Regions from separate parts of the Homo sapiens genome. Here all the other regions are linked to region 4. The links come from fine-mapping of genetic effects on gene expression. A gene starts in region 4. Each other region holds a variant in brackets. All regions are shown on one strand. Distances are between the middles of the regions. Region 1 overlaps RIBC2 (RIB43A domain with coiled-coils 2). Region 2 overlaps WNT7B (Wnt family member 7B). Region 3 holds the start of SMC1B (structural maintenance of chromosomes 1B). Region 4 holds the start of UPK3A (uroplakin 3A).

Region 1 (8,136 bases), 140 kb after region 4:
CCAGGCTGGAGTTCAGTGGAGCGATCTCGGCTCACTGCAACCTCTGCCTCCCGGGTTCAAGCGATTCTCCTGCCTCAGCCTCCCAAGTAGCTGTGACTATAGGCACGTGCCACCAAGCCCAGCTAATTTTTGTATTTTTAGTAGAGACGGGGTTTCACCATCTTGGCCAGGATAAGCTCTATCTCTTGACCTTGTGATCCGCCCACCTCGGCCTCCCAAAGTGCTGGGATTACAGGCGTGAGCCACCATGCCTGGCCGCAAATGAGAGATCTTGTTTCCCCACATCCTTACTAATGTGTGCCATTATTAGCATTTTAAATATTTTGCCTTCGATTCATTGGATGTTTCCCACCTTGTATGGGTGATCATCCTTTCATAATTGTATTGATTACTCAGGTTTTTTTTTTTTTTTTTTTTGAGACAGAGTCTCATTCTGTAACCCAGCCTGGAATGCAGCGGCGTGATCTTGGCTCGTAGCAACCTCTGCCTCCTGGGTTCAAGCGATTCTTTTGCCTCAGCCTCCCGAGTAGCTGGGACTACAGGCTCCTGCCACCACGCCCGGCTAATTTTGAATTTTTAGTAGAGACAGGGTTTCACCATGTTGGTCAGGCTGGTCTTATACTCCTGATCTCAGGTGATCCGCCCACCTCGGGCTCCCAAAGTGTTGGGATTACAGGTGTGAGCCACCACACCCAGCCTCAGGTTTCTTTATAGTGATCTGCCTGGCCGTTCCTACACTTTGCCCATTTATTGGGTTGGGGTTTTGGGGTTTTTTTAATTGATTTGTAGGTACTCTTTGTATATTCAGGATACTAATCCTTTAATGGCTGTGTTACTTTTTTGGAGGGTTGTATTACTTTTGCAATCACTGAAAAAATTAGTTTTTAAAGTAGATTCATGGGCTGGGTTCAGTGGCTCACTTCTATAATCCCAGTGACTCAGGAGGCTGAGGCAGAAAGATGGTTGGAGGCCAGGAGACCAGCCCAGGCAACATAATGAGGCCCTATCTCTAAAAAAGTAAATAATAAAAAATAAAATGGATTCAAATTTATTTTTTCCTCTGAATCCTAAGCTTATGGATATGCTGTATCTCTTCCAGCTGCTGAAATGAGGCAAAATGACAAAATCATGTGCATATTGGAAAACCGGAAAAAGAGGGATAGGAAAAATCTCTGTAGGGCTATCAATGACTTCCAACAGAGCTTTCAGAAGCCAGAAACTCGCCGTGAATTTGATCTGTCCGACCCCCTAGCCCTTAAGAAAGATCTTCCAGCCCGGCAGTCAGATAATGATGTTCGGAATACGATATCAGGAATGCAGAAATTCATGGGAGAGGATTTAAACTTCCATGAGAGGAAGAAATTCCAAGAGGAACAAAACAGAGAATGGTCTTTGCAGCAGCAAAGGGAATGGAAGAACGCCCGTGCTGAACAAAAATGCGCAGGTAATGAAACAGAAGAGACGAGCTGGTCTCAACGCTCTCTTCAACAAACCAACCCTACAGTTTTTTTTTTTTTTTAAGCAACCCTACAGTTTTTTTTTTTTTTTAAGCAACCCTACAGTTTTTGTGGGATTTGTTTAAAGTCCTACCAATGTGCACAGACAGCCACATGCTACTTTGGCCCTGTGGGGAAAGAAAAGTCAGAGCCTGCCCTCCAGGAGGGAAACACCTGCAATGACACCTCAGTCATGTGGAAAACACTTTCCGTGTCGGGGTCCCAGTTGGATGCCGGCGTGCAGAGGTAACTCAGAATCGGTCCCTGCCCTCCCAGTCTGCGGGGAAGGTGAATGGGAAAGATGCAGGTCTTCCTGAGTCTCTTGGGTGCTGTGGTAGAAATTCCTACAGGGGACTTTGGGGGTGTAGTTGCAGGCATGGTGGTCACATGCCCTCACCAGGACTCCCCAAGCCCAGGGAACCTCTTGGGCAAAGGCTCCAAGGCATGAAACAGCCTCTCATTGAGGGAACTGCAGAAAGCCCCATGTGTCCTCACTGAGGTCAGCAGCATTCTGCTCTCCCAGCTCCTCTTCATGCCTGCACTCGAGCAGCACTGACCCGCCCAGCCACTTCTGTGCCGGAAAGACCGGGTAACGAAGACGACAACATCCCTGCTCTCTTGGGGTGTGTCAGCGGGTGATGGAATAGTGAGGAGCTATGAGGAAGACAAAACAGGGACCAGGCACAGAGAGGAATGCACTCCGCCTTCTTGAGCGCCTCCTCTCTGCTTGTTAGTTTGCAGTCTCCTTGCTCGGCCCATCCTCCTCCAAGCCTCTTCTCTCCCCAGTCTACTCTCCATGAGTGATGTCTCCCCAGATCATCTTCTCCCATTCTTCTCCCACTCCTACCAGATTTATGCCCTCCCTGCTCCACTGGAACTGCCCTGGCCAACCTCACCAGTGACCTCCATGTCGCCCAATCCAAGGTCGGTTTTTGACCTTCATCTGGACCTAACAGTCGATCACCTCCTGCTCCTGGAAATGCGCATGCAATTCAGCTTTCAGAACACCACTCTCACATTAGCTCCCTTCCCATCCAGGTCCTTTGTTGGTTTCTCATCTGCTCAACCTCTGGATGTTGTTCACACCAGTGCTCTCCTCTACCAGCTAAACTCACCCGAGTGATCTTGTCCGGTCTCATGGCTTTAAATGCCACCTATAGGCCATCATTTCCCAGGTTTATACCTCCAGCCTGGACTCTTCCCTGAATCCAGACTCATAAATTCATCTAACTTCTCTTGGATGTCTAATGCACTTGTCAAGATCAGCACGAGTCCAATAACTCTGTTCTTCCCTGCAGACCTGACCTTCTACCCACATCCGTGACAGCTCCTTTCTTCTAGCTGCCCAGGCCCCAGCCCAGGTAATCTTGACTCCTTCCTTTCTCTCCATTTTTCAGCTACTTTCCACACCCTCCAACATTCCCATTCTGAACTAAGGCTATCAGCATCTCTCGGCTGGGCGCAGTGGCTCATGCCTGTAATCTCGGCATTTTGGGAGGCTGAGGAGGAAAGATCACTTGAAGCCAAGAGATCAAGGCCAGCCCGGGCAACAAAGTGAGACCTCATCTCTACAAAAAATTAAAAAGTTAGCTGGGCATGGTGTCGTGCCCATGTAGTCCCAGCTACTCAGGAGGCTGAGGCAGGAGGATCACTGAGCCTGGAAGGTCAAGGCTACAGTGAGCCGTGATTGTGCCACCGCCCTCCAGCCTGGCCAGCAGAGTGAAACCCTGTCTCAAAAAAAAAAAAGACCGGGCACAGTGGCTCATGCCTGTAATCCCAGCACTTTGGGAGGCTGAGGCGGGCAGATCACGAGGTCAGGAGATCAAGACCATCCTGGCTAACACGGTGAAACCCCATCTCTACTAAAAATACAAAAAATTAGCCGGGAGTGGTGGCGGGTGCCTGTAGTCCCAGCTACTCGGGAGGCTGAGGCAGGAAAATGGCGTGAACCCGGGAGGCGGAGCTTGCAGTGAGCTGAGATTGTGCCACTGCACTCCACCCTGGGTGAGAGTGAGACTCCATCTGAAACAAACAAACAAAAAGCATCTCTCAGCTGCTCTTTGGGTCTCTCCCCTTATCCTACAGAGTAAACATTTCACTCAGAGTAAACGATTTTTTTCAGAGACCTACAACGCCTTCACAGTCTGGCCTTATCTCCTGCTATGCTGCCCTCTCACTCCATTCTTTCCACACTATCTTGCTGTTTTCAGACGTGAGTATATCAGGCTCACTTCTGCCTCAGGGCCTTTGCATGTGCTGTTCCCTCTGCTTAGAAATGTCTTTCCCCAGATATCTGTAGGGATCACCACTCTCCTCCAGGGCTGTGCTAAAGTGCTATCTTATCAGTGAGGCTTCCCCTGACCCCCCTATTTTAAACCCTGTACCCTCCTCCCACCCCACATTCCGTATCCTGTTGCTTAATTTTTCTCCATAGCCTTGATCACTGACGTGTTGTATGGTTCATCCATCTCCCAAGTGGTCTAAATTTCCACCTCTGGCCAAAAGGCTTTGTTTCAGCTGTGGACTTGGTTCTTCAGCAGTCTCCTTGACATCTCACAGGACCCTTCACAACATGTCGGAAAGCAGCCCTGGATCCTCTTCTGCATCTGCTCCTTTTTCCATCTTTCTCCTCCAACTAACTGGTACCTCCTGCCCTTAAACCAGAAGTCTAGGGAATCATCCATGACCCACCCCTGACTCCAGGCCATCTCTGACTCTTGTCCCTTCTACCTCCTGCATATATTTTGAACTGTCCGCTTGTCCCCATCCCTGCTGTCACCCTTGTGATGCAAGCCACCATCTCAGCTGAACAGACCTCTGCCAAGATCTTTCTGATGGCCTCCACTTCCTTTCTTGCCCCTCTCTGGTCCATTCCCAAAACAGCAGTCAGTGATACTTTTAAACAATGTGGAGTTTGGCCAGGTGCAGTGGTTCACACCTGTAATCCCAGCACTTTGGGAGGCCGAGGTGGGTGGATCCCCTGAGGTCAGGAGTTTGAGACCAGCCTGGCCAACCTCTGCCTCCCAGGTTCAAGTGATTCAACACTGTTCTTACTTTGGGAGGCCAAAGTGGGCAAATCACGAGGTTAGGAGTTCAAGACCAGCCTGGCCAACATGGTGAAACCCTGTCTCTACTGAAAATACAAAATTAGCTGGGCGTGGTGGTGCGCGCCTGTAATCTCAGCTACCCCGGAGGCTGAGGCAGGAGAATTGCTGGAACCCAGGAGGCAGAGGTTGCAGTGAGCCAAGATGCACCACTGCACTCCAGCCTGGGCAACAGAGCGAGACTCCATGTCAAATAATAATAATACTATTATTATTATTAATACTATTATTAATAATAATAATTAAATAATTAATTATTATTTAAATGCCACCTATAGGCCATCATTTCCCAGGTTTATACCTCCAGCCTGGACTCTTCCCTGAATCCAGACTCATAAATTCATCTAACTTCTCTTGGATGTCTAATGCACTTGGATGTCTAATTAATTATTATTATTAATAATAGTATTATTAATAATAATAATAGTATTATTAATAATATTAATA[A/ATAATAATAGTATTAT]TAATAATAGTATTATTAATAATAGTATTATTAATAATAATAATAGTATTATTAATAATAATAATGTTATTATTCTGCAAAGGAGGTATGTCCTGCTTCACAGGTAAGGACACAGGCTCAGCAAGGCTAAGTAATAGTTGAGGTTAACAGAGCTCGGAAATGTCTGGGCTGGGATGTGAGCCTCCTCTGACTCCAAATCTTCACATTTTGCTTTTGGACCTTCTACCTTGACCCCTTCACCTCCTACTCTTCCTCTTTCTCTTACTCATTGGCCTGACCAAGTCCTCCTGCCACTCCACAGTATCTGTCATCTGGCCCCACTTCCTCCATAGAGTCCTGTCTGGTTTCTTGCTCTTTCACTTCTGGATTCCCCTGAATCCTTTCCCAAAACCTCTGCACCTGCTCCCAACCCACTTCTTTTGTCCTGCAGGTCTCAAACGTCATTTCTTGGGGCTGTAGAGTATCTCTTGCCCACTGTAAGGATGTAGCTGCCTCAGGATAGAGCAGGACAGCAAGGGGCACACCACCAGCCTGTCCCAGGACCCCAGCATAGTAGTGATCACTAGCACTCATCTGGGAGCTTGACTCTCCCACAGCCTTCAGAGGCAGGTCCTGTCATTATTGTTCCCGTCCTCATGCTCATGGCTAAGGACGTGGTAGGAGGCAAAGGCACGAACGGCCACACGTGGGAAGGTGCTCCTGTGGCCAGGTCGATCTGATTGCTTCTTGCCTCCTTTCAGAGGCCCTCTACACAGAGACAAGGCTGCAGTTTGACGAGACAGCCAAGCACCTCCAGAAGCTGGAAAGCACCACCAGAAAGGCAGTTTGTGCATCTGTGAAAGACTTCAACAAGAGCCAGGTATAGGTACTCCGCGACCTCGGGCTCGACGACTGGAGGGGAGGATGAGCCCACTACGGCTTCCCAAGGCTCTCCGGCTTCCCTGGGATCCCAGTCTCAGCCTGCTCCCTGGTCACATGACCGGCCCTGACAGAGACCCTGATGGGCTGCCTGATGACAGAGATGGATGAGACCCAGTCCTGTGCCTTAGCTCTGAATCTTGGAGGGAAACCTGCCAAACTAGCCATGTAACCTGGGGAAGTCAGCTCACCTTTCTACACCTCGGTTTCTTCTTCTGTAACATGAGGATGGTGACATCCACCTAGACTGTTACCGCCTAGCTCTGCTCCACTGCCTGGTGCTGGTTTCCATTCTTCCCACCTCTCAGACTTCCCCTTTACTGAGAACAGCTACTTGGATGCTCACCGATGGCAGGGATGATGAAGAAGATCATAATGAGCTCGAACACTGGGGCCTCCTGAGACCTCCCACCTCCTCTCTAAACTCTGGCCCCCCTCCTCCCACACACTCCCCTCCCCTCCAACCTGATGCTGAAATTGCTGAAATAGGTTCTTCTTTTTGTTTCTTTGGTTTTTTTGTTTGTTTGTTTTTGAGACAGGGTCTCACTCCATCACCCAGGCTGAAGTGTAGTGGCACGATCATGGCTCACCGCAGCCTCGACCTCCCAGGCTCAGATGATCCCCCCACCTGAGCCATCCAAGTAGCTGGGACTACAGTCACGCGCCACCATGCCCAGCTAATTTTTGTATTTTTTTGTAGACACAGGGTTTTGCCATGTTGCCCAGGCTGGTCTCAAACTCCTGAGCTCAAGCAGTCCTCCCGCCTCAGCCTCCCAAAGTGCTGGGATTACCACATCTGGCCCTCTTTTCGTTTTGGAAATTAGAGCTCGCCCCCCTGCCTCTCCCTCCCCCCACAAGGTTTTCTTTTCGAATGCAATTCTGTTTTCTGGTGGGTGGGGACTTTGCCTGGGTTCATTGATCAGGTTCGCTCGTCAACTAGAACTATGGTCCCCAAAGAAGGCTGTGCAGGATCTGTGGGAGAGCAGATACCAGAGCCCTGCTTTATATTCATTTTTAACCTCATCACTTTTGATTTCCATGTACATGTGTAGTTATAAGCATGTGCTATCATTAAGGTATAGTAGTACCATGCTGTGAACTAAATATATTGGAGATACAAGCTCAAAACTGTCCTGGTGGAGGCAGGCAGTCAAAAATCCCAGAGAGGCTGGACCAGACACCAGAGAATGTGGGTTTTCAACACGGGGGAGAGGAATGAGGAGAGCCAACTGCGGGGGCTGGGGAGGACCAAAAGGCAAAGCAAGACACCTGAAGTCCGAGCTCACCACCCAGTGAGCTGCAAAGGTCTTAGAGATCATCCATCCCTGCCCTTCATTTTACAGAGGGCGACCAAAGAGGGGAGGCTGTTTGCTCCAGTCCCCACTGCAAGTGAATGGCAGGATGTGGGGCCCTTGACAATTAGTCCACTGTTGGCTGGTGATCTGCTCATTCATTTATGGAAGCGATGGTGATGATGATGATGATAATTCACTCATTCATTCATCAATTCAACCAATGTTTATTGAGCCCTTCCTGCTGGGCATTGGAGTGGCTTTTGCTAAACCCTATTGTCTCATTCATCAATTTATTCATTCATATATTCTAGAAGATGTTTAATGGGCATCCACAGCCTGCCTGGTTTTCTCAGACCCCCGGCTCCTCACGTGGATGCCACGAGGCAGCACCATTGCAAACACTCCTGCACTGGGAAAAGCCGCCCTCTGGCTTCTGCAGCTCTGCTACTAACTACAACTAGGCTTTTTAATTAACCTGGGATGTTAATCCAAAGCCCAAGCAGGCCGGTCCAGTTCAACAGGAAGGACACACGTGAGGGCCTCCAGTTCTTGGGTCGGGGCTCATTTCGTCAGAGAGGCATTGTGGCATCAGGGTGTGGCACGCAGGCTCTGGAGCCCGACCACACGGGGTGCAGACCAGGCTCTGCCCTGCAGCCTTGGGCAGGCCACCCACTGCGTCCATTTGATCATCTGCAGAATGAGGAAGCGACAACACCCTCCTGTGTCGGTCAGAATGTGCTAACCCTTGCTGGGATAAGAAGCAGCAGTCTCAGTGGCTTAAACAGAAAGTTGATGTTCCATGCATGCTCCCTGCCCGCCATGGACAGGCTGTGAGGCCTGTTCCTTGGCATCCTCACTTTGGAGCCCAGGTCCTGG
Region 2 (8,000 bases), 650 kb after region 4:
TCAAACCCAGGGAATGAATTCAAAGACCAGGAAGGCTGACGGAGGAGCAAAGTGCCTGGGGTCGGGGGCCCTGGAAGGTCCTTCTGCCCCCAGCTTGGCCTCTCTGAGGCTAAGGTGACCTGGGGCAGGAGGAGAGGGGGGATGTGGGCTATGCAGCCCCCAGGGAAGATGCTGCCTGTGGACAGTCTGTGGACCTGGGGGAAAGGCGCAGCTGTAGGCAGGCTCTGGGTAGGAGCTCTAGGGAGGCTGAGCTGGCTCTGGAGTGGGCATGTGTCACCCGATGGAGGGGGTCTAGGAACCCCAAATGATTGTGCGGGCCCAGCCGGTGGACCTTGAGGACAGATGTGGATGTCCCCTCAGAGGTCCTGGAACAACAGCCTGTGACCCTCCTCTTCCTGCCCCATAGGAAGGCTGCAGAGCGGGTCAGGGGATGCCACTGTCCTGAAGTCCCTGAGCAGGCTGGCAGATCCACGGCTGGGTTTGCACCCTTGGAGGACACTTCCCACAAGCCTCCCTTCCAGCCTCCCGCAAGCGCCTGCTCTCACCTGGCTATGCCTGCCCCAGGCTCAGACTCAGTTACTCACCGGTTACTCATCGCCTGCCGCTCCTGCTAATTCCTTTTTTATTTGCTTTTAATGAGCCAAACCCTCTGGTCTCTCGTCATGGAGACAAGGGGGAGGTGAGCTGCAGAGAGTCATAGTTTTGGCACAATCAGTAAGAACGACCTTAGGTCCGGCGAGAGTCGCTGCCGTGGACTGTGGGCTCCCGTGCGCCCGGCACGTTGCCTGTGTTGTCTGGTTTAATTCTCACAACAGCCCACGGGGGAGGGCCCGTTACCCCATGTTACAGACCTAGACGCCCACTCCGAGGGCTTTGTCATGGTGTGCCTAGGTGTGTAGTGGGAAGGGCAGAAGGGCTGCAGGCTTCCCCCGTGTCCCTCCCCAAGTCCCTCCTGGGGCCGTGACTGGGCACCTTGCCAGTCCGCCCACACGCCATCCTTCCTCCAGGCTGACAGCGAGCCAGTGCTTAGACTTAGAAGCCGGTCCTCTGCAGTGGGTGCAGACAGCCTGGACCCATGTGCCTTGCTCAGCAGCTGTCAGTGGCCCCCAAGGCCTCTGAGACGACTTCCAGTGCCTTGGCCTGGCCCCCAAGGCCCCAGAGGCCTGACCCCACCGCTCCTCGCCCACCACTGCCTGCAGCCCAGCGTGGCCTGCCTGCAGGTTGGGCAGCCACCTCTGGTGCACAGTAACTACTCCTGAATAAAGGACCTGCTGGCTTCCTGCCGCCTGCCCTGGGGGACAGCAGCCCCCTCCCTTCCTGGAATACCTGCCCACCCTCCCACATATCCACACACTCCTCAGGCTCTGGACGCAGGGAGGGAGGCTCCCTCCTCCCCGAATGCCCTCTGTAGTGGGCACACCCTCCCCTGGGCTCTCACTGGGTGCCCCTCAGGCTGCAGGCAGGATCCACATCTGATTCTTTTCTGTACCTCCCACCCATCGCTGTTTCCCAAATCCCATGCATGAGCAGGTCTGGACTGGGCACCTCCCCCACACCACCTTATCTCCAAGACAGCCCCATTCTGATCAGACCCATTTCACAGATGGGAAAACCGAGCCTTCAAAGCAGGAAGGGATTTGCAATAGGCCCATGGCAGTGACGAAAGCCATCTGAGCTCAGCAGCTGCCCTAGATGTGTGTGGTGATGGGGAAGCTGGATGAGGGCAGCACGGATGCTCTGTTTGGGGCCGGCAGCTGTCCTGCTGGTACACTTGGGTCTCGGGGGGCCTAGGGGCCTCTCTGAAGACCCACAGCCTACCCAAGCACAGGTCTGTACCCCCAGATTCTAGAGCCAGCAGCAGCATCCAGCAGTATCCCTAGAAAATGCCAGAGCAGACTATATTCTGGCCACCCCTCACCCCACAGCCCTCAAGAGCACTGGGTGGGTTTCTGAGTAATGGTCCTGAAGGTTCCAGCCCTGCGGCAGGATTCACTGTTTCCAGTGCAGGCTATCTCTGGTGCCTCGGCAAGTTACCAGCCCTCTCTGAGCCTGTGTTCCCATTTGATACATGGAACTCAAAATCCTCACCTTGCTGCACAGCCCTAGCTGCCAGCTCTGAGAGCAAACAGGATGAATGGGCATGGTACCCACATCACTAAGATGGTGGGCAGTCCAGGGCCGGCTACGGGTGGACCAGACACAGCAAAGGACTCCAGGACAGACCGAGGTGTCTGTCTGTGCTCCATGCAGACTGGGCTGGAAACAGCCTCTTCCCCAAGGCCAGCCCCATCGGCCCTGCCCAGCTGTCCCCTCAAATCCAGAGTATCAGAGTCCTCAGAGACATGTGGGTAAATGGAGGCTGCTGGGTCAGAAATTGCCTGGCCATGCAAGGGCCATCCAGCTCTGCTCCCTTTTCCGTAAGTTATTTGAACTCAAGCCCTCAAAGGACCCCCTGGCTGGGCCCAGGACAGGCTCAGAGGGAGGAGACGCAGCCCCCTGCCCTGCCTCTGCAGTGCCAGCCAGACCCTGATGTCCAGGGAAGGGGGTGTGTGCTGGGGCAGAGCTGCGCCCTCATCCACAGTCATCTCACTCTGACCATGAGGAGGATGGTGGGGACCCTGGCAGATCTTTGTGAGCAGCTTCTAGAAAGAGCAGATGTGTGTCCTGAACAAAGCCAGGGCTTGGGCAGGATGAGGCTTCCCCCTCTTCTCCTCAGGGCAAAGCTGGGGGCTGAGTCCACCCTCCCAGCCGCAGCTGCCACTCCTCACCATCCACTCAAGCTCCCTGCCACTTCCTAGCGTCCACAGGGGCCGGTGCACTTTTGTTAGAAAGCCATGGTTGAGCTCCTAATGACCTGATTAACTGCACGGAGGAGGAGGTGGGAGAGGTACTTGGTGCCCTCCTAGGAGGAGAGCCAGGAGTCTGCAGCCTCAGTGCTGGGAAGGCCCTTGGGGACCATCCAGTGCGGCTCCTCCATCCCCAGCAAGGAGCCTGAGGCCCAGAGGTGGGCAGCATGCTCCCCAAGGTCACACAGCAGCTCAGGAAATGGGGGATCCAGGACATGAGGTTCTCAAGTGACTGAGGTGAGGGCAAAGGTCTGGGGGCCACACATGCTCCTGGAGCCTTCTGGAAGCAAGGGGGAGGCTCAGAGTCTGACACCCTGCCTTCAAGTCCAGACCCTGAAATTGGCCAGCTGAGTGACCTCAGACTGGTGAAGGGGCCTTTCTGTGTCCCTGTCTCCCTACCTGCAAAATGAGAGAATTGCTCCAATCTGGCCAGAAGGGCACACACAGTCCTGGGGGCAGGCTGACCTGAGCTTCATGCCTGTAGGTGTGACACACGACACATTTGGGATCTTCGTGGGCAGACACACATTTGGGCATCCCTGGGCAGCAGGTGTGCACCTCAGCACGTGTCCCTGGCGTACACCTGGGCTGACCCTTGGAGGCAGTGCCCGCCAGCTGCCATGTGAACCTGTGCTCACGGGTCTGTGCTTCCGGCCCACACAGTTCAATTCTCCTCCCGTACTTGCCCCTCTTTTTAAAAAATGACATTTTTGTCCGGGCACAGCGGCTCACGCCTATAATCCCAGCAGCACTTTGGAAGGCTGAAGCAGGTGGATCACCTGAGGTCAGGAGTTCGAGCCCAGCCTGGCCAACATGGTGAAACCCCAGGTCTACTAAAAATACAAAATTAGCCAGGCATGGTGGCAGGCACCTGTAATCCCAGCTACCTGGGAGGTTGAGGTAGGAGAATCGCTTGAACCTGGGAGGTGGAAGTTGCAGTGAGCCGAGACCGCGCCATTGCACTCCAGCCTGGGCAATAGAGCGAGACTCCGTCTAAAAAAAAAAATGACATTTTCTACAACTCAATAATAAAATGGTTAACAACTCAATTAGAAAGGACAAAGACTAACGGGTGAAGGGATAAAGAAAAGGTGGTATAGATACACAATGGAGTATTACTCAGCCATGAAAAAGAATGAAACCCTGTCATCCCTGCAGTGGCACGCAGGTCATCATGTGAAGTAAAAGAAGCCAGGCACAGAGAGACAAATATCACATGTTCTCACTCACATGGAGGAGCGAAAAAAGTTGAAGTTATTGAGGTAGAGAGTGGAATGACAGACACCAGCGCCTGGGGAGGGTGTTGGAGGATAAAGAAAGGTGGGTTAAGAGGTACAAAGATGGCTGGGTGCTGTGGCTCACACCTGTAATCTCAGCACTTCGGGAGGTCGAGGCGGGTGGATCACCTGAGGTCAGGAGTTCAAGACCAGCCTGACCAACATGGTGAAATCCCGTCTCTACTACAAATACAAAAATTAGCCAGGCGTGGTGGTGTGCGCCTGTAATACCAGCTACTTGGGAGGCTGAGGCAGGAGAATCGCTTGAA[C/G]CTGGGAGAGGGGAGGTTGCAGTGAACCAAGATCTCACCACTGCACTCCGGCCTGGGCAACAAAGCAAGAATCTGTCTTGAAAAAAAAAAGAGAGGTACAAATACACACAGGTGGAAGGAGTGAGGTGTAGTGTCTGACAGCATGCTGGGGTGACTACAGTTAAGAACAACATGTTGTGTATTTCAGAACAGCCAGAAGAGAGAACTGGAAATGTTCCCAACACATAGAAATGATAAATATTCTAAAGGAAGGAAATCTTAAATACCCTGACTTGATTGTTACACATTGTATACATGTATCAACATATCACATGGACCCCATAAATATGTGTAATATTACGTATTAATTTTCAATCAAAAAATAAAAGCTAAAAAATAGTAGGCCAAGGACCTGAACAGACATTTGTCCAAAGAAGGTATAAAAACATCCAATAAGCAGACAAAAGATTCTCAGCATCATTAGCTGTCAAGGAAATGCAAATCCAACCCACAGTGAGATGCCACTTCACACGCACTAGGAATAAAAGGCAAAAAAGACTGACAATACCAAGTGTTGGTGAGGATGTGGAGAAATGGGGACCCCTGTATGCTGGTGGCAGTGTGAGATGCTGGTGGCAGTGTGAGATGCTCGTGGCAGTGTGAGATGCTGCAGCCACTGTGGCAAAGTTGGGCAGCTCCTCAAAAACTTAAACGTAGGGTCACCATGTGACCCAGCACTGCCACTCCTATGCATACACTTCAGAGAAATGAAACAGGCGCCCACTTATATATTGTGCAGAAGTATTCATAGCATCCTTATTTGTAACAGCCCAAGGTAGAAACAACCCAGATGTCCATCAATGGACGAAAGGATAAAGAAAATGTGTTCTATCCATACGGCAGAATATTACTCAGCCTTAAAAAGGAATGAAGTATTGATACATGCTACAGTGTGGATAAAACTCAAACATATCGGCTGGGCACAGTGGCTCACGCCTGTAGTCCCAACACTTTGGGAAGCTGAGATGGGCGGATGCCTTAAGCCCAGGAGTTTGAGACCAGCCTGGGCAACATGGCAAAACCCTGTCTCTACAAACACACACACACACACTCACACACACACACACACACACAAAAATAGCCAGGTGTGGTGGTGCACGTGCCTGTGGTCCCAGCTCCTCAAGAGGCTGAGGCAGGAGAGTCACTTGGGCCCAGGAGGTCAAGGTTGCAGTGAGCCATGTTCGCACCACTGCACTCCAGCCTGGGCAACAAAGTGAGACCCTATCTCAACCCCCACCTCAAAAAACCCCAAAACATCATGCCAAGTGAAAGAAGCTAGACACCAAAGGCCACATATAGTGTGATTCCATTTCTATGAAATGCCCAGAGGAGCAGGAGTTGGAGAGTTAGACAGCACCTGAGTGTTGCCAGGGGCGAGAGGACTGGGACTGATTAAGCCACAGGGTTTCTTTCTGGGGTGATGAAAATGTTCTAAAATCAACTGCAGTGACAGCTACACAACTCTGGATATACTAAAGACCGTGGGCTTGTACACATTAAATGGATGAATTGTGAAGTATGTGGATTAGATCTCACTGAAGCTGTGATGGACACATAGGGCCAATGGATGGCTTTCAGAGGGTTTCATACCCGTGTCCTACTCAATTTAAACCCTCTCTGAGGCCCCATGGGTATGAACTAAGACCCCCCACTTCACAATTAGGACACTGGGCTCAGGAGAGGCAGGCGACTGGCCCAAGGTGACACAGCAGGTGAGACACCGAGCCGGGATCTGACCAGGACCCCAGAGTTTGTGCTCAGCCCACTCCACACCCACCGGGACAGGGAAAGCTGCAAAGTCTGCCTTGTGCCTCACTGACCTGGACGCCACGCTTGCCTGTGCCAGCCTCTTGACACTCTACACACGCGCGACACTGCCTGTAACACTCACGTTATTGCCACCTGTGTGTCCCTGGCACCAAGTACAGCCTCCCTCCTGGCTGGACCTCCCAGAATCCCAGGGGTGAGGCTCTCAGCCTCCCATCCATCAAGTAGTTGCCCAAGGTCAAGTGCAAGGCCGAGCACACAGCAGGGCAGAACCAACACACTGAACCCGGGGAGCAGACAGGCTGGGAGCGGCTCACAGACAGTGCCGCCAGAGGCCAGGGGTCAGAGCCACAGAGGAGCCAGCAGGGTAGGGTGGCTGGAGGGACTGGGGTGCAGGGTGGCCAATGAGTGCTCCTCTCAGGAAGGGATGCTGAAGGTGGGTCCCAAAGGATGGGAGAGGTGAGGAACACAGGTTCAGGGAACAGTGCTCCAGGCAGAGGGAACAGCAATGCAAAGACCCTGAGGTGAGAATGAGCTGAGCATGAGTGGTTTGTCCCAGCAGAGATCAGTGATGATGAAGTCGGGGACGGCCCTTGGGGGCTGTACCATGTTGCCCTCAGAGAAGACCTTGGACTTTGTTCTGAAAAGATGGAAGCCCCTGGAAGGTGTCACTTTGACTTACATTGAAAGGGACCCTCCACCCCACCCACCGGGAGGCCTGTGCAAGGGTTTGGGTAAGAAATGCTGATGACCCGCCAGGTAGAGGAGGTGAAAAGCTGCCAGGTCTCAGAGTCTCAGCGTAGAGCTAACGGGATTAGCAAGTGGATCGGGTGAGGGGGTTTAGGGAGGAAAGAGTGCAGAAGGGCCGGGCGCGGTGGCTCACGCCTGTAATCCCGGCACCTTGGGAGGCTAAGGCGGGCGGATCACCTGAGATCAGGGGTTTGAGACCAGCCTGGCCAACATGGCGAAACCCCGTCTGTACTAAAAATTACAAAAATTAGTCTGGTGTGGTGGCAGGGGCCTGTAATCCCAGCTACTCGGGAAGCTGAGCCAGCAGAATCACTTGAACCCAGGAGATGAAGGTTGCAGTGAGCTGAGATCGCGTCAGTGCACTCCAGCCTGGGTGACACTCCAGCCTTTGTCTCAAAAAAAAAAAAAAAAAAAAGAGTGCAGACTCTTCTGCAGTGAGGACCCCAATGCAGTGAGGGCAGCTGGTGGGGGGCTGTTACCAGGAAGCTGGACAGGATCAAGTGGAAAGAGTTGCCTCGGCCACGGGTGGCTTAAGGTGCCCAGGGATGGCAGGAGAGAGGCGAGGGGCAGGTGGGAACTCAAGCCTGGCCCCGCGAAGATGTCCCAGCATTGCCCAGCCCCCACCTCCCGGGGCCAACTCCCCATGGAACTGGGGCTTGTGCTCCGTGACCCTGGCCAAGGCCGTCACTCCTCGAGCCTCAGCTTCCCATTACCATGGGATGAGGCCTGGTGTCGTGGGTTCTTTAAAATCCCTTTAGCAGGGGAGCTTTTGTGAGATAGACTTCCCTGAAGAATAGGTCAGGGGAGGACTGCTGGGGCTGAGGTAGGGTAGGGATGCAGGGTGGGGTGGGGTCCCTGAGGCCTGGCTGGGGAGGGGTCCCTGGGACACGGCTGGCTGGGGAGCTCCTTGGTTTTCTGAGCCCCCATCTGCCCCCTACCCCACCTGATTCCCAGGCTCTTCACAGCCTAGAGCTGGATGGGGAGTACTGTCCCCGCCTCCCCAGTTTACTGGTGTAGAGATTGAGACCAAGGGAGGTGAGGAGACACCCCCG
Region 3 (8,136 bases), 130 kb after region 4:
ACTCACAAGATTATCATTAAAGCGAAATTCTGAGCATCCCCCTAAAATAAAAAAATAAACCCTGTTAAAAAATATATAAATACCAGATATACCTCAAAATCCACCGAAAGTTTAATAAAATTATTTTTCTTATTGAAATGGCCAGTTATATAATAATATACATGGGAATAAATGCATTTAATGAGTCAACAAATATTGAGTGTCTATTACATGTCAAGGTCTCTTTTACAGTGGCGAACAAAACACATGAAAGTCTCTTATCTGAAGAGCATATATCCTAGTCAGGATGTAAAAGGAAAATAAATCTCAGAACCCCTAACTCACTAAGCCAAAGGGAAAAGTCAACCTGGGAACTAGGTCATGCAAACTTGCCTCCTATTTTGTTACTAAATAAGGTAGCTGTAAAGATTGAAAAACAACAACAGCAACAAAAACTGCATGCCTCCCTCACAATTTACCCACAGGGAAATTCCTTGTGGGCCCCAAGATCTTTACCCTAAAACAGTTCTGTTGAATTTTAACCTGACAATATAAATTGATAGCTTATCTTCACATGTACAGGACAAAGGACAGAACTCAGTCATCCCTCTGCTCACCTGAGATAAATGTATATCTGATTGTCTCCTCTGCACTATCTTTATCTTTTTTTTTTTCTGAGACAGGGTCTTGCTCTGTTGACCAGGTTGGAGTGCAGTGGCGCAATCTTGGCTCACTGTATCCTAGACCTCCCGGACTCAAGTCATCTTCCCACCTCAGCCTCCTAAGTACTGGGACTATAGACTCACGCTACCACACACAGCTAATTGTAGAGACAAGGTCTCACCACGTTTCCCAGGCTGGTCTCAAACTCCCGAGTTCAAGCAATCGTCCTGCTGTGGCCTCCCAAAGTGCTGGGATTACAGGCATGAGCCCCATGCCCAGCCTATATTATCTTATATAAAAATGCAGATTCACTGAGCTAGCCTAATGCAGAAGTGACTATGCCTCTACCCCTGTCACATGTGAACAATTGATCAAAGGCTCAAAAGAATGCAACCACTGGTCTCTTTTCTATCCACACCTTTAAAAAAAATTTCTTCCTCTTTCCCAAATCCCCGCTCTTTTCCCGTAAATGTATATATACACACACACACAAATTCAAACATTTCACTCAAGTTGCTTTTTGGTGGTAGAAAAAACTGTCTATAATAAAGCCAAAAATATGCATACAATTTGTTCATCACTAAGAAAAACTGATAAACATAAAGAACCTCAAGAATAAATTTTATGATTTCTCTGTCTTCAAGGTACTCCTTCCTTCATCTTATTATTATTTTTTTGAGACGGAGTCTTGATCTGTCGCCTAGGCTGGAGGGCAGTGGCGTGATCTCGGCTCACTGCAAGCTCTGCCTCCCGGGTTCATGCCATTCTCCTGCCTCAGCCTCCCGAGTAGCTGGGACTACAGGTGCCTGCCACCTCGCCCAGCTAATTTTTTGTATTTTTAGTAGAGACGGGGTTTCATCGTGTTAGCCAGGATGGTCTCAATCACCTGACCTCGTGATCCGCCCGCCTCGGCCTCCCAAAGTGCTGGGATTACAGGCGTGAGCCACCATACCCGACCCTCCCTCCTTCATCTTAACTAAATATCCAGATTTTAAAATGTTATTTGACAGTAGGGGGATTTGAACAATTATGTCAGTTAAGGAAAAGCAGACATAATTGGAGAAATATGTGGCGAATCAAACAGGTTCTGTTACTTGCTTCTGAGATATGCTATGCAAGAGAAAAAAGAACTCTAGTTCATTACACCAGTAGAATAATAAACCATACCCTCCAAAGAAAGAAAAAATGGGCAATCTTACTTGACTCTTGAAAAATAAAATGAAAAAAAATTATAAAAAAATACCTCGGATAATCCTTGCAAATGTTTTCTCTTCGCCACTTTCCTCCACATATATAATTTTTACACTTGCAGAAGAAGAAATAGGTTTTCCAATATGTGCTCCATGAATGAGTTCTTGAATATTTTTCACTCTTAAATTAGCTATTTTCTCTCCCATTACAAAACTAAGTGCATCCATTACATTAGATTTTCCTGGGGAAGAAAAGAGATAAAACATTATTCATTCTTAATGATAAAAAGCCCTACCCAGAGCTGAAGAAATCAGGCCACCAATCGAAGTGAAATATAGCCAAAAGACATGTCCTTTTTAATCAATGTTCAAAATGCATGACTGAAATATTTGATGTAGATAACTCATTTCTTCTATGCATCTATTGTAGACTATTAAGAGGTCTAAATTTAAGGACTGAAATACACCTATCTAAATCCCAGCTCTCTTCCATTGTTAGGTATCACACCATGGCAAATCATTTAACTTCACTGAGTTTCAATTATCCTCATTTTATAAATATGGAAACTACCTAAAGCATTGGTGCAGCACCAAATCCTCTTATACTCTAAAAAAGAGAGGCTAAGGCTGGACGCGGTGGCTCATGCCTATAATCCTAGCACTTTGGCAGGCCAAGGTGAGCAGATCACCTGAGGTCAAGAATTCGAGACTAGCCTGGCCAACACGGTGAAGCCCCCTCTCTACCAAAAAATATAAAAAATAGCCGAGCTTGGTGGCACGCACCTGTAGTCCCAGCTACTCAGGAAGCTGAGGCAAGAGAATTGCTTGAACCTAGGAGGCGGTGGTTGCAGTGAGCCGAGATTGCACCACTGCACTCCAGCCTGGGCAACGAGGAGAGACTCCAACTCTAAATAAATAAATAAATAAATAAATAAATAAATAAATAAATAAATAAAAACAAGAGAAGCTAACTAAATCCAGGATCGAGGGCTAGATTAAAATTGTTTGATTGGTATGAGATGGTGCTACAGAAAATTTATATAGCAGGCTTGATACTGTTATCTTTTGAAAGTCCTACTTACAAGGTTGGCTGGCTTACAGGGATTTGGATTTGGATGTTGGGAGGGTTTCTAACATTCCCTATTAAGAATGGCTCACAGTGCCTAAACTATCTGTACAAACAATATGATTTAATCTGAACATATGCTTTCTTTCTAGGATTCTGGAATATTATTTTATAATTTCTTTTGAGGAAGGTCTGGCCTAAGAAGATTCTGGAACTTGGGTACATGATAGGCAAACGGTGCCTATGTGACAATCTCCCGATAAAAACGCTGCACATTGAGTCTTTAGTGAGGTTCCCTGGTGGGCAACATTTCACATGTGTGGACTAGCTGCTGGAGGAATGAAGCACTGAGTGACACCAATGGGTAAGGACTTGGAATCTTGCAACTGGTTTCCTAAGACTTTGCCTCATATATCCTTTCCCTTTGCTGAGTTCGCTTTGTATTTTTTCACTGTAATAAATAATAGTATTGAGTCAAACTATATGTAGAATCCTGTGAGTTTTCCCAACAAATTACTGAACCTAAGGGTAGTTGTGGGCATTCCTAACCCCAATGTTAAATCTGTTACCCAATCATTGGCCCATAATTTTCTCTAAGACAATTTCCAAGGTGCAATGTCAATGCAGCTGTCACCATCACTATTATTTCTCCTTTTCACATCCCTTCCCCTATATCCACAAAGCAGTTTAAATTTTCAGGCTGGGCGCAGCAGCTCACACCTGTAATCCCAGCACTTTGGGAGGCCGAGGCAGGAAGATCACCCGAGGTCAGGGGTTCGAGACCAGCCTGACCAACATGGTGAAACCCCGTCTCTACTAAAATACAAAAAATTAGCCAGCTGTGGTGGCGTGCGCCTGTAATCCCAGCTACTCGGGAGGCTGAGGCAGAAGAATCACTTGGATCCAGAAGGCAGAGGTTGCAGTGAGCTGATATTACACCACTGTACTCCAGCCTGGGCAAGAGAGCAAGACTCCATCTCAAGACAAAAGAAATAATTAATTAATTTTCAATGCCAAAACTAGGAAAGTAACATAAACAAAGCAAAGGAATACTATCAGCCACCGGAAATATGGCTTAGTTTTAGAGGTTTAGGGTCTTTCTAAAAAGAACTAGAAATAAATTGCTGCAAATTTATTTAGCTGAGTCTCAGTCAACTAACAGGTATGAAACGGCTTTTTTGGGTTAATGGATAATCTGCACATTGAGGGCTATTGTAAGACAGTGCATATGGACAAGATAAACATTCACTGAATTAAATTATTAAGTAATTTAAGTATTAAGTAACAAAACTAAACATAAACTTTTAAAATCAATAAGTCAATCCTTATTTAAATCTGCCTAAAATAAATACTTCTCATCCAAATCCATTTATTCCATTAAATTTCATTAATATTGTCCCTGCCTAATAAAGGTTATAGTCTGTCAAGAGAGTCAAGGCAGCATAACATACCACAAAGTGGCAACAACCCAAACTATCAACTGATGGATAAACAAAATGTAGTATATCTATACAGTGAAATATTATTTGAAAATAAGAAGGAAATAAGTACTAATACAAGGAGCAACATAGATGAATCTGAAAAACATTATGCTAAGTGAAAGAAGTCAGACACAAAAGGCCATATATTGTCTGATTCTATTTATACGAAATGTCCCAAATAGGTAAATCCATAGAGACAGAAAGTGAATTAGTAGATACCAGGAGCTAGGTGGAGAGGAAATAACAGGGAGTGATTGCTAATGAGTACAAGGTTTCTTTGGGGGCAATGAAAATGTTTTGGAAGTAGATGGTGATGATGGTTGCACAACTTTTGAATATACTAAAAACCACTGAACGGTGCATTTTATTTATTTATTTATTTTTACTTATTTATTTTTGAGATGCAGTCTTGTTCTGTTGTTGCCCAGGCTGGAGTGCAGTGGCGTGATGTCAGCTCACTGCAGCCTCTGCCTCCCAGGTTCAAGCGATTCTCCTGCCTCAGTCCCCTGAGTAGCTGGGACTACAGGCGTGCGCCACCACGCCAGGCTTTTTTGTATTTTTAGTACAGATGGGGTTTCATCATGTTGGCCAGGCTGGTCTTGAACCCCTACCTCCAGTGATCTGCCTGCCTCAGCCTCCCAAAGTGATGGAATTACAGGTGTGGGCCACCA[T/C]GTCAGGCCTTATTTTTTTGTTGAGACAGAGTCTTGCTCTGTCGCCCAGGCTGGAATGCAGTGGCACAGTCTTGGCTCACTGCAACCTCCGCCTCCCGGGTTCAAGTGATTCTCCTGCCTCAGTCTCCCAAGTAGCTGGTATTACAGGCACGTGACACCACCCCCAGCTAATTTTTGTATTTTTAGTACAGACAGGGGTTTCACTATGTTGGCCAGGCTGGTTTCTAACTCCTGACCTAAGGTGATCCGCCCGCCTCGGCCTCCCAAAGTGCTGGGATTATAGGCATGAGCCACGGCGCCCGGCCAATTTTATTTTATATTTATCTTATTTTATTTTATTTTAGAGTCGAAGTCTCGCTCTTGTTACCCAGGCTGGAGTGCGGTGGTGCTATCTTGGCTCACTGCAACCTCTGCCTCCCGGGTTCAAGCGATTCTCCTGCCTCAGCCTCCTCAGTAGCCGGGATTACAGGTGCATGTCACCACACCCGATTAATTTTTGTATTTTTAGTAGAGACAGGGCTTCACCATGTTGGTCAGGCTGGTCTCGAACTCCTGATCTCATGATCCACCCGCCTCGGCCTCCTAAAGTGCTGGAATTACAGGTGTGAGCCACCGCGCCCAGCCTTTTTTTTTTTTTTTTTTTTTTTTTTGAGACGAGAGTCGCACTGTGTTGCCAGGCTGGAGTGCAATGGCGTGTCCTTGGCTCACTGCAACTTCCACCTCCCAGGTTCAAGCGATTCTCCCGCCTCAGCCTCCAGAGTAGTTGGGATTACAGGCGTGTGCCACCACACCCAGCTAATTTTGGTATTATTAGTAGAGACCTCCGCAGGTCCTCTGGCCTCTCCAGACCTCAGTTTCCCCAACTATAAAATGGGGAGAGCAGCCATGCGCCATGGCTAACCAAAGACGGTGTCGCCAGGAACTTAGGAAAAGCTCAGTAAACTGGGTCATCATCACTACATTCCTGGGTCAAAGCTCCCTTGGATCCAAATGGTGGTTCTGGCTGCTTGGAACCCATTACCTCCTCGACAGCTCCCTCTCACTTCAACTTCGGATGAGAAGGGAAAAGGGACGCGAGTGACCAGGGCCAAGGGCAAGAGCAGTCCCCGAAGCAGGAGTGAGGGCAGAGAACAGGGCCCAGGGCGGGACCGGGGCGGAGAGGAAGCGTCAGGACCCCCAGGGTGGGGGGCGAGGGTTGGGAGCCCCTGAGATGAAGGGCGAGGGCCGGAGCTGAGGTGGGGTGGGGTCCCTCAGGGTGTCGGAGGAGGGTCGGGAGCCAGGAGGTGGAGGGCGAGAGCGGGGCCCGAGGCGGGGCCGAGTGGAAGGGTCAGGACCTCCGAGGTGGGGCGGAGGGACAAGGGTCGGGACCCCTGAGGTGGACGGCGAGGACCGGGGCTGAGGTGGGGTGATGGGCAGGGGCTGGGCCAGGGCCAGGCCGGGATCCGGTCGCGGTCAGGCTCCGGGACTGGAAGGGGAAGGCCGGCCAGGCGCCCGCGGCAGACGCCCACACCCCACAGGCCACGTGTGGCCTGGACGCCTGGGACGGCGGAGGCGCTCCGGTGGCGCCCTGAGCTGCTCAGTTACCAGAGCCGTTGGGGCCGATGATGCAGGTGAACCTCCGGAAGGGGCCAATGACCTGGCGGCCCCGCCACGACTTGAAATTTTCCACAAGCAGCAGCTCCAGGTGGGCCATGGCGCCGCCCTCCACGCCTCACCCGCGTTATCAAGCGCCCGCGGAAAAAGCGCGGGAAGGGATTCGCCAAGTGTCGCGAGAAGAGAGCGAGACGCGGCAAGCGCGGAGCCGTTCCTTAGCAACGAGTTGTTGACATTTCCGAGAGAGCGGGAGCGTCTGTACCTCTGCGGCGTCACTGGGAGCCCGACGGAAAACTGCGCTAAAGGCTTGTCTTTCCCCTGCCCGACCGAAGGAGCCGACCTTGCCTGCGCTACAGCTTCCTTATTTTCGTCGCCTGTTCTCCTGATCCTGCGTGTTCTAAAAACCCCTTAGGCTTTCCATGGGTTCCCAGACCATGGCGGTGGCGCTGCCCAGGGACTTGCGGCAGGACGCCAACCTGGCAAAGAGGAGGCACGCGGAGCTGTGCAGGCAGAAGCGGGTCTTCAACGCCAGAAACAGGATAATTGGGGTGAAAGGGCAGGGGCCGGGACGGGGTTAGAGCGGCAGATGCGGGCGAGGGGCTGCGTGGAGGGGGAAAGGAGATGAGTTCTAGGATGAAACATCTGAGCCAGGAGGCAGCAAACGGCCTCCTGCAGGGCCAATAATGCTCCCTCTCGAGCTCGCCTGGAGTCACCAACGGTTCTCCTCCCCTGAGCCAGATTTTCTACAACTCGTTTACAGTGGGGCAGAGATTAAAAATAATAATAAGTAGGATTGTTATTACTGAATAAAATGATCTGGCTCTAACCCTTCTCCTCTGTTTTTCCATTTATAGGGAGACACTGAAGCCTGGGATGTTCAAGTTCATGACCAGAAGATAAAAGAAGCTACTGAAAAAGCTAGACATGAAACCTTTGGTGAGCATTTCCTGAATGCTTATCTATTGGTTTAGGATTGTGTGGCTTTAGACTCCAGTCTTCCCCACCGTCCCCCTGCCCCGCCTTTTTTTTTTTATTTTTTATTTTTTTTATTTAATAGAGATAGGGTCTCACTATGTTGCCCAGGCTGGTCTGGAACTCCTGCGTGCAAGTGATCCTCCCACGTCAGTCTCCCAAAGTGCTGGAACTACAGGCATGAGCCACGGTACCCAGCCCTCCTTTCTTCACATATATAAAAAGTTGTCATTTTCACACTCTTCTTCCTTTTAAATTTCACAATTTCTTGTGCCCAGTTAACTTAATGCACTGATTCTTCTCTTAAAAACAGCTATTGAATTCGAATGTGGATTATAAGAAATAGATTTTAAGGGTATATGTATGTTTTCCTTCATTTTCTTAAAAAACTGGATAGGAAAAGCCTTAAACACAGAAAGACACACACACACACTCACTTGCTCTGCTCAAAAGTTTAAGACCGTCTATGAAGGACAGCTGTTTATACCAGACAACACATATGTCCGGGCTCACACCCTCAA
Region 4 (8,136 bases):
TGATTCTGAGCTGGGCCTTTAAGATCAACCCTGCTGAGGCCAGGCACGGTGGCTCACACCTGTAATCCTTGCACTTTGGGAGGCTGAGGCTGGTGGATCTTGAGGTTAGAAGTTCAAGACCAGCCTGGACAACATGGTGAAACCCTGTCTCTACTAAAAATACAAAAATTAGCCAGATGTGGTGGTGCACACCTATAGTCCCAGCTACTTGGGAGGCTGAGGCAGGAGAATGGCTTGAACCTGGGAGGCGAAGCGTGCAGTGAGCCGAGATCGCCCCACTGGACTCCAGCCTGGGTGAGAGAGCAAGACTCCATCTCAAAAAAAAGAAAATCAACCCTGCTGGCCTCTGATAAACTGCAGGTTCACAACCAGGTTCACAAACAATTGTTGAACAAGAAATGTCAGTCTATAAAAATTCTTGGAAGAAAACCGCAGCCCTGTTCAAGAGTTCCTTACCTCTGGGACATTTTCTGTGTGCTGAAGATAAGGATCTGATCATCCGCTCTCTGCATGTCAGGGCTGAGAGGTGACCAAACTCCCTCCCCACTTTCTAGAAGGTAAACCGACACCCAAAGAGGGGAACAGTGCATTTCTGTGGCAGAGAACAGACTCTGTCCCCCAACATTTTCACTTTGAAAAATGTCAAACCTACAGAAACATTTCAAGAACACTACAGTAAATACTCATACTTATTTACCAATTGCTAACATTACACTAAATTTACTTTCTCTTTTTCTCTCGAATCTCATATATATGTTAGTTTCAGGTATCATGACACTTTATCCACATGCAAGCTGGGAGGATCCCTTGAGGCCAGGAGCTAGAGACCATCCTGGGCAACATAGTGAGACCCCATCTCTACCAAAAAAAAAAAAATCAAAAAAAACTTGCTCAGCCTGGTGGTGCATGCCTGTAGTCCCAGGATTGCTTGAGTCCAGGAGGTCGAGGCTACAGTGAACTATGATCTTGCCACTTTGAGCTATGATTAAAGCTGCAATAACAGAGCCAGACCCTATCTCTTAGAAAAAGGATAAAGAAAATCAGCAGAAACTAATTAATTTCTGTATGACGTTGATGACATAACCTCACTGGCAGAAAAAGAATAAAACGATCTGAGTAATTATAGAGCTGGGTTGTCCAGGGGTACCTCCTTAGTGGAGTACACTCTAAGAACTGGGAGGCCTGTGACAGAACCCCAAACCTCACTAGTGACTTTGTTATTGGCAGTGGGGAGGGCGGAGCCATTGTGAAGCAACTTTGGGTTATCCTAGGATTGGTGGTACCAGAACCCAGATTCTCACTGTAGGATGAGGGAGATTTGGAATGGAAGAAGGAAAATGCTGGTGTTTTGTTATTTGTAATTAGTTATGGAAAAAAATTACTAAAACAAGATTTTTAAGTGAAAAGAAAAGAAAAAGGCTGGCCAGGCACAGGCCTGTAATCCCAGCACTTTGGGAGGCTGAGGCGGGTGGATCACTTGAGGTCAGGAGTTCGAGACCAGCCTGGCCACATGGTGAAACCCCGTCTCTACTAAAAATACAAAAAAATTAGCTGGGCATGGTGGCGTGCGCCTGTAGTTCCAGCTACTCAGGTGGGTGGCTGAGGCAGGAGAATCTCTTGAACCCAGGAGGTGGAAGTTGCAGTGAGCCAAGATCACCCCATTGCACTCCAGCCTGGGCAATAGAGTAAAACTGTCTCAAAAAAAAAAAAAAAAAAAAGAAAGAAAGAAGGAAGGACAAAGAAAGAAGAAAGAGAGGAAGGAAGGAAGGAGAAAGAAAGAAAGAAGGAAGGAAGAAAGGAAGGAAGGAAGGAGAAAGAAAGAAGGAAGGAAGGAGAAAGAAAGAAGGAAGGAAAGAAAGGAAGGAAGGAAGGTAGAAAGAAAGAAAGAAAGAAAGAAAGAAAGAAAGAAAGAAAAAGAAAAAACTAGGTTCATTGAGACAGACCGAGAAGCAGTAATACCCAGTTGCAAGAGGCACCTTGCCACTGTTAGATCTTAAACTCCAGTCTCCAGTGAAAGGCACCAGTGCCCCTTGGAGAGATGGCTGAATCCAGAGCTGGGACAGGGAATGTCAAGAGGAGCCCGGGACATTTTATTGTGCCAGAAAGTAAAGAGGTTCTCAAAGAATGGTGGGAGCGTGAAAGCAGCTAGCACAGAGCTGCTGGAAGGAGCTGCCAACAGCCAGGCCTGGGAACATTTGAGCACAAAATAAATAATGGAAGTCATACATTCAGCTTGCTTTTTTTTTTTTTTTGAGACGGAGTCTCACTGTGTCACCCAGGCTGGATTACAGTGGCACGGCGCGATCTCAGCTCACTGAAACCTCCACCTCCTGGGTCCAAGAGATTCTCCTGCCTCAGCCTCCCAAGTAGCACTGATTAGAACTCACCGTCATGACCATGTCCTGCCCAAAAGGTTTAACTTGAATTTCATCAATAGGAAACCATCAGACAGATCCACATGCAGGGACTTTCTGCAAACCAGCTGGACTGGATGCTTTGCAAATGTTCACATCAGGAAAGACAGAAGCAAAACAAAACAAAAGGCTGAGAACTGTCTGATGGTTTCCTATTGATGAGATTCAAGTTAAACCTTTTGGGCGGGACATGGATGTCCAAGTAGCTGGGACTACAGGCGCCTGCCACCACGCCTGGCTAGTTTTTTGGGTTTTTTTGTATATTTAGTAGAGAAGGGGTTTCACTGTGTTGGCCAGGCTGGTCTCAAACTCCTGACCTCATGATCTGCCCACCTCGGCCTCTCAAAGTGCTGGGATTACAAGCGTGAGCCACCGCATCCAGCTGGGGAAAGATTTTTAGGGATCAAGGGCCGGGCGCGGTGGCTCACGCCTGTAATCCCAGCACTTTGGGAGGCTGAGGTGCGTGGATCACAAGGTCAGGAGATTGAGACCATCCTGGCTAACACAGCGAAACCCCGTCTCTACTAAAACAATACAAAATATCAGCCAGGCATGGTGGCAGGTGCCTGTAGTCCCAGCTACTCGGGAGGCTGAGGCAGAAGAATGGCGTGAACGTGGGAAGTGGAGCTTGCAGTGAGCCGAGATCACGCCACTGCACTCCAGCCTGGGTGACAGAGCAAGACTCCGTCCCCCCCAAAAAAAAAAAGAAAAAAAAGATTTTTAGGGAACAAGACATACATTAATCCAGAGATACCAACTTTACCAAATGATGAAATGGAACATCCCCAATAATGGGACACACTGACCTCATGTGCTTCCTTCCTCCATTCCAAATCTCCCTCATCCTACAGTGAGAATCTGGGTTCTGGTACCACCAATCCTAGGATAACCCAAAGTTGCTTCGGAATGGCTCCGCCCTCCCCACTGCCAATAACAAAGTCACTAGTGAGGTTTGGGGTTCTGTCACAGGCCTCCCAGTTCTTAGAGTGTACTCCACTAAGGAGGTACCCCTGGACAACCCAGCTCTATAATTACTCAGATCGTTTTATTCTTTTTCTGCAAGTGAGGTTATGTCATCAACGTCATACAGAGATTAATTAGTTTCTGTTGATTTTCTTTATCTTTTTTCTAAGAGACAGGGTCTGGCTCTGTTATTGCAGCTTTAATCATAGCTCAAAGTGGCATGATCATAGTTCACTGTAGCCTCGACCTCCTGGGCTCAAGCAATCCTGGGACTACAGGCATGCCCCACTAGGCTGAGCTAATTTTTTTTTTTTTTTTTTTGGTAGAGATGGGGTCTCACTATGATGCCCAGGATGGTCTCTAGCTCCTGGCCTCAAGGGATCCTCCTATCTTGACCTCCCAAAGTGTTGGGATTACAGGCATGAGCCTCCTTGCCCCTCTTCTGTTGTTTTTTTCCTATCCTTGTTGACTTACTTTTATTTCTTAAATGTAAAATTGATTTAAGGTGCATCCAGAGATGTGCACAGATTCTTGTGATGGAGGGAACCGCACAGTCATGGTGAGGAGTCCATCATAATTTTCAAACGCCCCTTTAAGAAGTAGGCATTAACACCCTGCTCCATCCCTTTGGAGGCAGCCCTGGGCTGAGCACTGGACTCCTGGGTTCCACCAGCCTCAGTGTCTCCAGGAGACCAAGCGCGGCCGGGGGTGAGTCCCTGTCCCCGCGCCCCCCACCACGCTCCAATACTTACCCCCTGCCCCACCCCCCAGCCTCCCGGGCCTTGGCTTGTACCTGTGAACCGAAGGGGTCATACTAGGCGTCATACTAGGGTCTCTGGATAGCTCCCAGGCCTGGACTTCGTTTTCCAGGATATCACCTTTACTGGTCAACCCATTTTGTTTCGCGAGTGCCCAGTGAGTGTTTGGCACGTAATAGAGCCTCCATAAATAGTTGTAGAAATTAGCGTCATTTTACAGTATGGAAACTGAGGCTCCAAGTGGGAGTGGCTTGCCCTCAAGGTCCCATTGGTGAGAGACGCTGTGGAAGGGCTGCCCTGGCCTGGGCACACAGTAGGCGCTTTGATGCGGGCTGGAGAAGGTCCTGCCCGGTGGGATTGCGCCCTGGGGCACCGCGCACGGGTCGGGGAAGCCCGGGGCAGGGCCGTATGCAAATAGCGCGCGAGGAGGCCGCGGATTGGCCAGCCCAGGCGGGGGCGGGGCGCGCCGAGGGCCCAGAGCTGGCAGGTGCCCTGGCAGGGACAGGTCTGGTGCCCGCGCCTGCTCGCTGGACCGCCCGCCCCGCGCTCTGGCGGCTCCTCCCGGGCGATGCCTCCGCTCTGGGCCCTGCTGGCCCTCGGCTGCCTGCGGTTCGGCTCGGGTAGGCGGTGAAGGGCAGGAGGGGGCTGAGCCCAGAAAGAGCGGGCAGCTCTGCCCTGGGGCGCCCGCCGCCTGGACCCTGATTCCTGGCGCTGGGGACCCAGATATTACTGTTATGAATAATAGTGATAGCCAACGTTTACGGGCCTCCTCTGTTGGGAATCCGAGGGCTCACAGATGGCTGCAGCCCTGCGATGTGTGTTGCAAGAGACCAACATGCAGGGGGGCTGCGGTAGGACAGAGAAGGGACTAGCCCCAGCCCCATGGTGACGCCTGGACGGGGGCAGATAGAGAGATATTTCGGCCGAGGAAGCAGCATGGGCAAGTTCATGGAGGGGAGACAATATTGGGCTGTCCTGGGAACTGCCAGTCCATGGGACCAGCTGGAGCCTGGGGTGAGGGGAGCCTGTGGGGGAAGGGGTGAGGCTGGAGACCGAACAAAGCAAAGCCCAGAACTTCAGGACCTCACTGCCTTTCCAGAGAGGCTGGACTTCGTCAGGGGGCGCTGGGGGACCATGGGAGGGCCATAGCCAGAGAATGAGGCAGTCAGACTTGCATGTGGGGGGAGGGCCCAGGTGAGGAAGGTGGGACGGAGGAGGGCTGGGCCGATGGCATGGAGAGATGCTTAGGAGGGGCAGTGGAGTTCTTGGCAACTGAGTGTCTGCAGCAGGGAGAGAAGGCAGCAGTTTGGCCCGACCGCTCCATTTCTGAGCAGGATGACTGGGCAGGGGGCAGTGTCTGAGACAGCTTATGCGGTGGCCCAGGGGGAGGGTGAAGCCCAGGGCCTGGCACACAACACGTGCTCAGTAACTGCAAGCAGAGTGGGTGTGGACAGTTCTGCCGGAGGTCAGTTCCCATCCTCACTGCCTCCTCCAGCTGTGAACCTGCAGCCCCAACTGGCCAGTGTGACTTTCGCCACCAACAACCCCACACTTACCACTGTGGCCTTGGAAAAGCCTCTCTGCATGTTTGACAGCAAAGAGGCCCTCACTGGCACCCACGAGGTCTACCTGTATGTCCTGGTCGACTCAGGTAAGGGTCCTGCTTCCCTCTGGCTACTCCAAAAGGGGCTCTGACCTGTCTGCAGGGAGGAGGGAAGGAGGCAGATAGAGGAACCCTCCATGCCTGTAGTCGTCTCATTAAACAGGTACTGCAGCCACAGACCTGTCCTTGCCTTGCAGGGACATCCAGTTAGTGAGGGAAGTAATAACACCACCAGTCACTGAACACCTACACCATACCAGGCACTTTGCACACCATAGAGCTAGTATCTACAACCAGCTTGTAAGGTAGCTATTACCAATCCCCATTACAGAGCAGGGAAGCAAGGCTCAGAGAGGTGGAATAACCCCCCCTGGACCTCCCAGGGCTGGAGAGTGAATCCTGATCTCTCTAGTCCCCAAGCCCAAGGTCCTTCCTGAGGCTTCGAAAGGTGGCTCAAGATTGGTGTTTCTGAGACAAAACCATGCATTTGGACCTGCTGCTGTGGCCCAGCCCCAACCCCTGCCCTGGAGGGGATCCTGAGCTTCTGAGACAAGCCAACATCAACTCTTGCATTTCTAGCAGCCAGTCATTTACAACAGCTCATTCGGGACCATCCTTTTCTTCTTTCAGCATGTGTTTATTGACTATAAACTAAAGTGCCTGATCTCCGGGCACTGTAGGGAATTTCTCTCCCATTTCATAGAAGACTAGGGTCTGAAGAGGTAGAGTGAGTTGTCCAAGGTCACCCATCTAGTAAGGAGGAGAGCTGGGTCCTGCCTCCACGTTATTTCCCTTGGACCGATGACCTTCCTTTCCCATTTTACACAAGAGAGAATCCAGGGCTTTCAGCAATGAAGAGACAAAGGTCTGTTGGGATGGGGGGTTGCAGGAATGTCACAAGATAAGGCGAGAGTCAGACACAGCGCCCAAAGCAGGGAGGTGATCCTTGTCCATCTCCCACATTGCACTGAGAGGGCAGAGACTAAGTTTGCCCCATGCCTGTGATGCCAGTGCCCAGCACAGAGCTGGGGCAGAAAGGATGATCAGGCATTTGATGAATAACTGAGTGAGTGTCGCTGAGCCGGAGTGGCCAGAAGCCTGACTCCCTGCACCGCCTCTGCAGCCATTTCCAGGAATGCCTCAGTGCAAGACAGCACCAACACCCCACTGGGCTCAACGTTCCTACAAACAGAGGGTGGGAGGACAGGTCCCTACAAAGCTGTGGCCTTTGACCTGATCCCCTGCAGTGACCTGCCCAGCCTGGATGCCATTGGGGATGTGTCCAAGGCCTCACAGATCCTGAATGCCTACCTGGTCAGGGTGGGTGCCAACGGGACCTGCCTGTGGGATCCCAACTTCCAGGGCCTCTGTAACGCACCCCTGTCGGCAGCCACGGAGTACAGGTGGGTGTAAACAAACCACTACAGGAGAGCCGCGGCAGTTCCCCAGTCCTGATGAGGGAGAGCAGGGGCAAAGTAGGAGCAGCCACACTTCTTGAGAACTTATATGCTGAGAACATCCCAGGTTCCAGGCAGGCCACGCTGAGCCTCAAGTTCAGAAGAGGCCCCTCTTGGATTGACGCTCTGCAACTACCGTCTTGAAATTCTGTATTTTATTTATTTATTTATTTTTTGAGACGGGGTCTCCACCATTTCCCAGGCTGGAGTACAGTGACACAATCTCAGCTCACTGCAACCTCCGCCTCCCAGGTTCAAGCGATTCTCTTGCCTCAGCCTCCCGAGTAGCTGAGATTACAGGTGCACACCACCATGCCCGGCTAATTTTTTGTGTTTTTAGTACAGATGGGGTTTCATCATGTTGGTCAAGCTGGTCTCGAACTCCTGACCTCCAGTGATCAGCCTGCTTTGGCCTCCTCCATAGTATTGGGTTACGGGCGTGAGCTGCCATGCCTGGCCCATCTTGAAATTCTTAATTGTTGAACAAGGGCCCACATTTTCATTTTGCTCTGGGGCCCACAGATTATGCAGCTGGTCCTGGCCCATCTACGTGTGTGGAAGTCACCCACCCAAACCCCTTCGTCTTACAGGAAAGGAAACTGTGCCAGAGAGGGAAGGTCACCCAGTGGAAAGCTGGGGCCCAGCATGAACAGAAACCCTACCAAAGCCTTGCCATCTGCAGCCTCAACTTCTGCTTTTTTTTTTTTGAGATGGAGTTTCGCTCTTGTTGCCCAAGGTGGAGTGCAGTGGTGCAATCTCGGCTCACCACAACCTCTGCCTCCCGGGTTCAAGCGATTCTCCTGCCTCAGCCTCCTGAGTAGCTGGGACTACAGGCGCCCCCACCACGCCTGGCTACTTTTGTTTTTGTATTTTTAGTAGAGACGGGGTTTCACTGTGTCAGCCAGAATGGTCTCGATCTCCTGACCTCATGATCCGCCCGC

The links. PIP is the estimated chance that this variant, and not a neighbour inherited with it, causes the effect.
Region 1: its variant is fine-mapped to the expression of UPK3A in whole blood (INTERVAL, PIP 0.95).
Region 2: its variant is fine-mapped to the expression of UPK3A in anterior cingulate cortex (GTEx, PIP above 0.99).
Region 3: its variant is fine-mapped to the expression of UPK3A in whole blood (INTERVAL, PIP 0.96).

The regions. Positions count from the first base shown.
Region 1 is chr22:45,416,503-45,424,638 of GRCh38, forward strand. It overlaps RIBC2 (RIB43A domain with coiled-coils 2), which reads left to right. Exons shown (of 7, transcript NM_015653.5): 3 at 1,100-1,444; 4 at 5,788-5,906. Among named protein-coding and RNA genes, the nearest start is that of RIBC2, 6.9 kb to the left of the region's middle. The variant A/ATAATAATAGTATTAT (reference allele first, on the strand shown) is at 5,048.
Region 2 is chr22:45,934,167-45,942,166 of GRCh38, forward strand. All of the region lies in intron 2 of WNT7B (Wnt family member 7B), which reads right to left. Among named protein-coding and RNA genes, the nearest start is that of WNT7B, 39 kb to the right of the region's middle. RefSeq lists an enhancer at 1,029-1,529. The variant C/G (reference allele first, on the strand shown) is at 4,393.
Region 3 is chr22:45,406,825-45,414,960 of GRCh38, forward strand. SMC1B (structural maintenance of chromosomes 1B) reads right to left here and starts at 6,775. Exons shown (of 25, transcript NM_148674.5): 1 at 6,635-6,775; 2 at 1,886-2,074; 3 at 1-41. The coding sequence starts at 6,743. It overlaps RIBC2 (RIB43A domain with coiled-coils 2), which reads left to right and starts at 6,869. Exons shown (of 7, transcript NM_015653.5): 1 at 6,869-7,191; 2 at 7,498-7,579. The coding sequence starts at 7,063. RefSeq lists an enhancer at 6,858-7,691. The variant T/C (reference allele first, on the strand shown) is at 5,051.
Region 4 is chr22:45,280,311-45,288,446 of GRCh38, forward strand. It overlaps UPK3A (uroplakin 3A), which reads left to right and starts at 4,639. Exons shown (of 6, transcript NM_006953.4): 1 at 4,639-4,755; 2 at 5,631-5,786; 3 at 6,862-7,141. The coding sequence starts at 4,704. RefSeq lists a silencer at 4,460-4,769.